Linked DNA regions of Homo sapiens: regions 1 and 3 are each linked to region 2. Evidence: fine-mapped expression QTL. A gene starts in region 2. Each other region holds a variant in brackets. All regions are shown on one strand. Distances are from middle to middle. Region 1 holds the start of LOC124909374 (a long non-coding RNA gene). Region 2 holds the start of LZTFL1 (leucine zipper transcription factor like 1). Region 3 has its middle 8.4 kb from the start of CCR9.

The links. PIP is the estimated chance that this variant, and not a neighbour inherited with it, causes the effect.
Region 1: its variant is the best candidate, but not a certain one, in a credible set for the expression of LZTFL1 in whole blood (TOPMed, PIP 0.59).
Region 3: its variant is the best candidate, but not a certain one, in a credible set for the expression of LZTFL1 in whole blood (TOPMed, PIP 0.62).

Annotation. Positions count from the first base shown.
Region 1 is chr3:45,863,592-45,866,357 of GRCh38, forward strand. It overlaps LOC124909374 (a long non-coding RNA gene), which reads left to right and starts at 1,363. Exons shown (of 2, transcript XR_007095900.1): 1 at 1,363-1,664. It also overlaps a transcript of LZTFL1 not described here. The variant G/A (reference allele first, on the strand shown) is at 1,273.
Region 2 is chr3:45,841,066-45,843,831 of GRCh38, forward strand. LZTFL1 (leucine zipper transcription factor like 1) reads right to left here and starts at 1,054. Exons shown (of 10, transcript NM_020347.4): 1 at 924-1,054. The coding sequence starts at 926.
Region 3 is chr3:45,876,802-45,879,567 of GRCh38, forward strand. It overlaps a transcript of LZTFL1 not described here. Among named protein-coding and RNA genes, the nearest start is that of CCR9, 8.4 kb to the right of the region's middle. The variant G/A (reference allele first, on the strand shown) is at 1,699.

The DNA of each region.
Region 1 (2,766 bases), 23 kb after region 2:
TGTCACAGCATCCCCTGTGACGCAGTCTAGCCAAAGATGTTTAACTTGGGTCTAATCAATATGTAGATGTAACTTCCAGGAAATACAAGGGAGAGAGGAACAAGCTAAATGACACCACTGGCAAGCAATGTAGGGGGCCTCTATCGGCCACTGGCCAAGCAGCTGCAATAAGAAGCTACCCATGAAGAGACTGGAGGCTGGATTAAAAGATAGAGAGAGGACATAAAAGCCAGGTGCAATGTGTGGTCCAGGATTGGTTCCTCGTTTGGACAAAGAAGCTGGGAAGGACATTCAGGGAAACATTTGGTGAATTTGAATAATATAATGGCTATTAGATGATATTAAAGAATGATTATTAATTTTAGGTGTGATAATGTTGTTGTTTGTCAAGCAGGAAAGTGTTCTTTTTTTAAGAAATGTATTTTGGGGGCAATGTCATGCATGATATCTCTAACATAACACACAGCTGGACACTATGTGGGAGACTGACTGTGATGTTCAAGTCCCCTGTGGAAAGGTTGAACAAAAGTAGACATTTAACCAACATACTTGTCAGAGACTAGCAGGTAATGTGTAATTATAAATTGCTATCAAATTACTGAGTAAAAGTTTTGTGAAACATTTTCTAAAGTTTGAGAGTAAAGAGTAAAAAAGAGTAGCATATTAGTTCAAAATAATGAGGAAGGCATTATCATAGGAAGATAACAAAATTTTAATACGTGATACCTGATTTAATTTTAATATTGCTACTAGAACCTAATTTCCACTTGTCATAATGAAGAATTTTTATAACTTTTCTTCACTTATTGCTACTCAAAATCTTCATCGACTAGTAAAAATCAACCACAGGGCAACTGTTATAAATTATGGTATGTCCATATCTGAAATATTATGAAGTCATTAACAATTAAGATGTGGATTTAATATTTGGTTAATATTTAATGACATGAAAACATTTATGCCAATGTTCAGTGCAGAATATGCAACTTTATTACAATATAGTCCTAATTTTATGTATTAATAAGTGTAAAAGATTTAGCCCCCAGGTTATTGCTGAGAGAGGGATAAATAAGTACCATTTAATGTAGTCCTAGTATCATTAATTATTAAAAGAATATAAGAGAGAAAAAAACACACATGAGGAGACAGTAAAAAACTGTTTAGCTGACCAAGTGAGTGCTGCATTATTGTCTGTTTTAACAAGGGAGTAGGTTTTCTCACCACATTCAGCCAATGTGGTAAATTTTCTAACATGATAAAAAGAAACTCCCA[G/A]TTTTACTCATTTCCAGAGCTGAAAGTTGAAGAGTTGAAGCCCTTTTGCCCTTCTCAGAATGACTACACTTAAAGTGAGCTTCCTCACCACCAAGTACCAGAACAAATGGTGGGCCTGGAAAGGCAATTCTGCTCTGAGGAACGTGAAACAAGCATAAACCGAATGTGATGGCAGAGCTGTCACACCTTGTGGCCATCGATTACATTTCCACTGACCGTTCTATCACTCTCCAGAAGGGTGATCATGCCTGTGCTGCTCCCAGAAGACCCAGATCCACCGAAAGAAATGCAATCCTTCCCCACAGGCAGCCTTTCCTGAGGAGAAGAAGGAGCTTCTCTAATTGTCACATGAGTAGAAAATGTTGAAGAGACCTGCCTCTTTCAGAGGAAGGGTAAACAGAATTCTAACCACATTTTAAAACACCTCTTCCCTCTGCTTATTGAAGTAGGATACTCAGCAACAATTCAAAAGATTGAGGTTTACATGCACTGATGAGGAACGACCTCCAAGCTTCATTGTTCAGTGAGTGAAACCAGAGTTAGAGCAACAGAGCTCACAAAATCTCACTTACACGCACTACATGCTTCCACATGCAAACACGTGCACATGCACACACATGCACAGACTCTTGCAAAGAAAAGATGAACACACACCAAACTTTTAATGATAAATATGTATGACGAACTAGGAAAGGGATGGAATAAAAGGGAACGTTCACTTTTCTTACTCTATATTTCTGAAGTTTTTGGATTTTCTTTTTATAACAGGAGGTAAACATTTAGTTCTTATGTAATTTTAAGAGAGGGAACGATGAATTCATACACTTCTGGTAGAAATGTAAAAATGATACAGTCATTTGAAAACAGTTTGGCAGTTCCTCAAAAAGTTAAACATAGAGTTATCATATGACCCAGCCATTTCACTCCTGAGTGTTTACCCAAGAGAGAAAGAAATATATGTTCCTGCAAATACTTGAGCGTTTATAACAGCGTTGTCTGTAATAACCGAAAATCAGAGGCAACCAAATGTCTACAAACCAATGAATGGATAACAAACTGGTATAGGCCATGTAATCGAATACTATTCCACAATAATAGGAAACAACTATTGGTACACATGACAACGTGAATGCATCTCAAAATGATGCTGAGTGAAAGAAGCCAGACAAAAGAGTATTTGCTATGTATTACAATTTATATAAAATTCTAGAAATGCAAACCAAACTATAGTGACAGAAAGCAGATCGGTGGTTGAATGTGGCGAGGGGTGGTGGCGTGGTGGGAGGAAGGAAGAACAAATGGGTCCAAGGACACTTTTGGGGTGATGGATATGTTCACCACCTTCATTGTGCTAATGATTGATCCGGTGTGTACTACAGCAAGATTTATCCAATTGCATACTTTAAACATGTAGTTTATAGTGCGCTAATCATAACTCAATGAATCTACAAAAAAGTAATACATGCTTAATATAGAACATTTTGAAATAATGTA
Region 2 (2,766 bases):
TGATTTGTTTTCAACGTGTTCTCCTGATATTTTAGGGAAATCAAGAGAATGAGTGGAGAGGCTCTAAACTCAAGAAGGGGAGGGAGCAATCTGTTTAGCTCACAGGTGTCTTCTCAGCTCCCAGACAGCGCTTGGAACACAGTGTGGACTAAATAGAAATTCTGGTTGCTGAAGTATTTCAGTAGCTATTTCAGGTGGTGCTCTCAACCCTGGTTTCATCCGTTTTCCTGAACATTTCAGTGCTGTGCACTGTTCTAAGTATGACTGGTATTTAAGATGGCATGCTATATTCGCTGGAGGGATTAATGATATTTTTTGAGCAAGCCAAAACAAAGGAAATGTCACCCAAATTCCTCAGCTGTAATACGGGGTGCTGGGATTCTTAAAGTCACCTCCACATCAGAAAGTTGGATTTCAATCACACAGAAAGCTGGATTCGTTCTCCCTGCTCCTCTGGTTACCGCGCGCGCGCGTGTGTCTGTGTAAACCTTAGAGCTTCCTGAAACTGAGTGAGAACCCTGCGTATGTGTTAATGTGTGTGTGTGCGTAAACTTGGAGCTTCTTGAAATAGAGTTAAGAACCCTGCCGTGCACCTTAGGCCGGCAGCAGTTTCCTCTATCTCTCCTCACCTGCCACCTAAGAGTTGTGCCTTGGCTCCAGCCCCCGCAGGCAGGAGAGAAACGAAGCGATGCGGCGGAGCTGGGCTGCTGGGAAAAGGCTTCACCCAGGATTACCCCAGAAGGGCTTGGGCTGCGGTTAACCGAATCTCTCGCGCCCGGCGCAGCTCCCCTTCTCAGGGAGGCTGAGGTGCGGCCAGACCCAACGAGGCCACGTAATCATTCCGGGCCCACCCGCTCAGTGTCTCCAGCCCCGGCCGCGCTCTCTCCTGTGCGCGGTGCGGCGCCTGAGGGTCGGTTACTCACCATGGCGGCAGGCAGCGGCGGCAGCCTAAAGGAACGGGAGAGGCCAGGCGGTGCCCCGCCAAGCCTGGGATCGCCGAGGGTAGTTGGACCACAGAAAATGGGGAAGGAGGGTAGGTTGTTTAGAAGCCTCTGGTTGCTAACGGAAACCGAGGCACGTGGACTGCAATTATGCATTTTCATTGGTCCTCAGGATCACGCGACAGGAAGTATTGCGTAACCGGTTGACTGCCACATGCGCATTGGCTTCCAGGGCCGGAAGTCCCACCTTTTTGTGCCAGTTCACTTTTGGGAGCTGACTGCAGTTGCAGAAGGTAGCGGGAGGGTTGGGCTGCCTGGAGTTGCGTGTGGCCACCAACGCGCTTCGCGCCTCGTGGCGTCCGCTTATGGATTGTTGGGAAGTTCTTGTCCAGAACTTCCTGTGGCATAGGTGACCCCAAGGATGAATGGACATCCCAGACCTTTCAATGGTCTCATAGGGCGCGGCCCAGACATTTTTTTTTTTCAGGAGTTCCTACCTGAGCATCAGGGTGGCTGAGACAGGCCAACAACACCAATGCCAGCAGGTTCTCAAATAGAGCTTCAAACGACCCCTCCCCATGACTCCGCCCATTATTATTACTGTGTTGTTATTATCTTCTCTTATATTTCCAGCTAAAAGTCTCTAGCAACATTTTTCCATTTAAAAAAAATGCAAAAAGCATGGGTTTTCTCCGAGAGCAGTGAATTTCAAAAGGTTCCATATGCCTGGAACTACTATGGAAGCTTGTTGAACAAATTCCTGGGCCTTATCTCCAGAAATTCTGATTCACAAGTCTAGCTTGGGTCCTTGGGATCTGCACTTTTTAACCGATGTTCCAGGAGTGATCACAGATCAGGACCACTCTTAGAAACACTGGCTTGGAAGGACAAGTGTAGGATGAGATCGATTATTGCAAATACCAGGGACTCAGAGTCCTTCACTCACATGATACAGAGGTGATGTGCAGGCATTTGCCCACAGAAGGATCTCAAGCCTTGGGTCAAGAACAGTAAACAAGGTTCTCCTGTGTGTCACCTGGAGCATTCCAATGCACGGAATGATGGCCTGAAGGCAGTGGCGTGGGTATGCCCAACTTCAGCTTTGGCTAGGCTCCCTACCCTTGGCACTGCAATGGCATTTGGGCAGGATCCCTGTCTTCTTGAAAGATTCCTAAGGGCAGATTCTCTCAACCCTGAATATTAACCCCTTCCAAGCTCAGTTAAACTTCCCCTTTACCATCCCACCTCCCCATTTCTGTTTAGTGAGTGTTGTTGAATTTGGTTGCCATTATTTAGTGCCTACTATGAGCTATTAATAGACACATTCCATTCCAGTAGTTAATCCTCATAATACGTGGTTCTTTCCTCTGTAGACATTCGTTGTGTTCACATAGTGAGAGGGTCACTTTACAAGGTGTTGTGGGTGCGAGATGAAGTTCATAAAAACTTTTATGACTGATCAGTAAACAAAGTTGGTCATCAGCTTGCACTGCTGAAAAGCTCGTTTATTTTCTCCCAGGCCAAATCTTGTGATTGCGAAGTGTTATCAATTCAAGGGAATGAAAGGAGCGTGTGTATAATGCAAATATTACATTTGTGGCTTGGGGATTTTAAAATTTGTTCTGCAAAACTCCATCAGCTAGTTATTGTAATTTAAAATTCTGCTTTAATCTAAAATCTTCTATACCAAGGAGGTTAATCACCATTAGCCAATCTACCCAACAGAGTTGAGTGTTGTTACATAAGCTGTCTAAATAGTGTCAGCAAATCTGAACATGAATTTTAGTCTCAAAAGTGATGAATTTGGCTCATGAAAAGGCTGAAC
Region 3 (2,766 bases), 36 kb after region 2:
GAAATTTGGTAGATGGTAGAAACCTTAAAATGAAAAGAGAAATGAGCTAAATCTTTGAGATGGAAAGGAAGGCTGGACCTGGCTGGGTTAGTCACAGGACTGGGGAGTGGAAGGGTAACTATTCCCCCAGCCTTCCTCCGGGCTCTCTTCAAAGCCTCCTGGACACAAGACAGCAGGGATGGAAGCCGAGACAACAGCTGTCTCTATCTTAGGTCATCTCAAACATAGGGCAAGGGAAGGCTTCCTCAATGCATATCAGAGGAAGAGAAAAGTAGGAAGGGATCCCAACTCCTGCAGCCCAAGATATAGCGAATAAAATCGTGAAACTATTGAAAAATAAACTCCAAGTTTAAAAGATACTAAACAGACCTCTTTCCAGTAGGGCTTCTCAGAACCTGTGAGTGCTGCTTCACCTTTTTCACAAGCATCTCTTTTTTTTTTTTTTTTTGGAGACAGAGTTTTGCTCTTGTTGCCCAGGCTGGAGTGCAATGGTGCCAGCTTGGCTCACCACAACCTCCGCCTCCCAGGTTCAAGCAATTCTCCTGCCTCAGCCTCCCAAGTAGCTGGGACTACAGGCACACGCCACCACGCCTGGCTAATTTTTGCATTTTTAGTAGAGATGGGATTTCACCATGTTGGTCGGGCTGGTCTCGAACTCCTGACCTCAGGTGATCCGCCTGCCTCGGCCCCCCAAAGTGTTGGGTTTACAGGCGTAAACCACTGCGCCTGGCCACAAAGCACCTCCTTTTGCTGGACACCTGCCCACAGAACTCTGTTTGGGAAGGCTGCTAGATATTGTTTTGGTTTTTCTTTGGTAAATTTTTTCCAAATATGGTTAATACTGAAAATTGGGCTGTTATTTCTAAGGTGAAACTCCATGAGTAATCTGAGTCCTGTGATGGGGTCTTTGTTTTAAAGCATAATTTATTTCATTTATTAGTTTTTTTTTTTTTTTTTCCTGAGACAGAGTCTAGCTCTTTGTTGCCCAGGCTGGAGTGCAGTGGCTTGATCTTGGCGCACTGCAACCTCTGCCTCCCAGGTTCAAGCAATTCTCTCACCTCAGCCTCCTGAGTAGCTGGAATTACAGGCGCCTGCCACTATGCCTGGCTAATTTTTGTATTTTTAGTAGAGACAGTGTTTCACCATGTTGACCAGGCTGGTCTCAAACTCTTGGCCTCAAATGATCCACCCGCCTCAGCCTCCCAAAGTGTTGGGATTACAGGCATGAGCCACCGCGCCCAGCCCATTTACTAGTTTTTAACTGACAAATAATAATTTTATTTATGGGGTACAATGTGATGTATCTACATGGTGGAAAGATTAAATTAAGCTAATTAGTATTTTCCTCACCTCACCTACTCATTTTTCTTGTGGTGAGAATGTTTAAAAATCTATTCTTTCAGCAATTTTGGAATATGCAAAACATTATTATTAACTATGGCCAGCACCAGCCCGAGGCCTGAAGCTTTCCTCTGGGTCTCCCTTGCAGGGGCCTGACCTTTTGATGTGATTGTTTTGATGTGGCCATTTAGAAACTGAGGCTATTTTCATGTAGCTATTTTGATGCTGTGGAAATTTTCTGACTTTTCAAAAACTAGCCACTGAACTTTCAGCTTTTGAAAAAATGATCAAGTGTTAATATACTATAGGGCCAGGGACAGGGCAGGGGTTGGCGCTATGGACAAAGTGGGGCAGGGT[G/A]AGGCTGGGGGATGGGGCCCATTTCTAATGTAATTTCTTATTTAAAAAACTAAACATGTAAAGTTCTGATTTTTAGGGTCACAAAGGCCCTCAAGTAAAAAAAAAAAAAAGCCCCTCTATGAAAGACACTGTTAAGAGAAGGAGAAGACAAGCCCCAGACTGGGAGAAAGTATTTGCAAAAGACACATCTGATAAAGGAATGTTATCCATAATATACAAAGAACTCTTAAAACTCAACAATAAGAAAATAAGCAACCCAATTAAAAAACAGGCAAAAGACCTAAAGAGATACTTCACTGGGCCAGGTGCAGTGGCTCACGCCTGTAATCCCAGCACTTTGGGAGGCTGAGGCGGGCAGATCACGAGGTCAGGAGTTCGAGATACTTCACTGAAGAAGATATGCAGATGGGAAATAAGCGTATGAAAATACATTCGACATCATAGGTCATTAGGGAACTTCAGATTAAAGCCACACACCTATTAGAATAGCCCAGGCCCTAAACACATAGCACCAAATGCTGGTAATGATATGGAGCATCAGGAACTCTTATTGCTGGTGGGAATGCAAAAAGGTACAGCCACTTTGGAAGACAGTTTGGCAGCTTCTTACAAAACTAAACATACTCTCACCGTATGATCTAGCAATCGTGCTTCTCAGTATGTACCCAAATGAGCTGAAACTTATGGCCACACAAAGATCTGCACACAGATGTTCACGGCAACTTTATTCATAATTGCCCAAACCTGGAAGGAACCAAGATGTCCTTCAGCAGGTGAATGGATAAATAAACTGTGACACATCCAGACAATAGTTTATGTTATTCAACACTAAAAAGAAATGAGCTAGCAAGCCATGAAAAGACATGGAGGAGCCTTAAATCCATATCAGTAAGTGAGAGAAGCCCATCTGAAAAGGCTATATACTGTATGATTCCAACAAATACGGCATTCCGGAAAAGAAAAACTGGAGACAGTAAAAAGGTCAGTGGTTGCCAGGAGTAAGGTGGAAGAGAGGGACGAATAGGTGGAGTACAGAGGATCCTTAGGGCAATGAAACTATTCTGTATG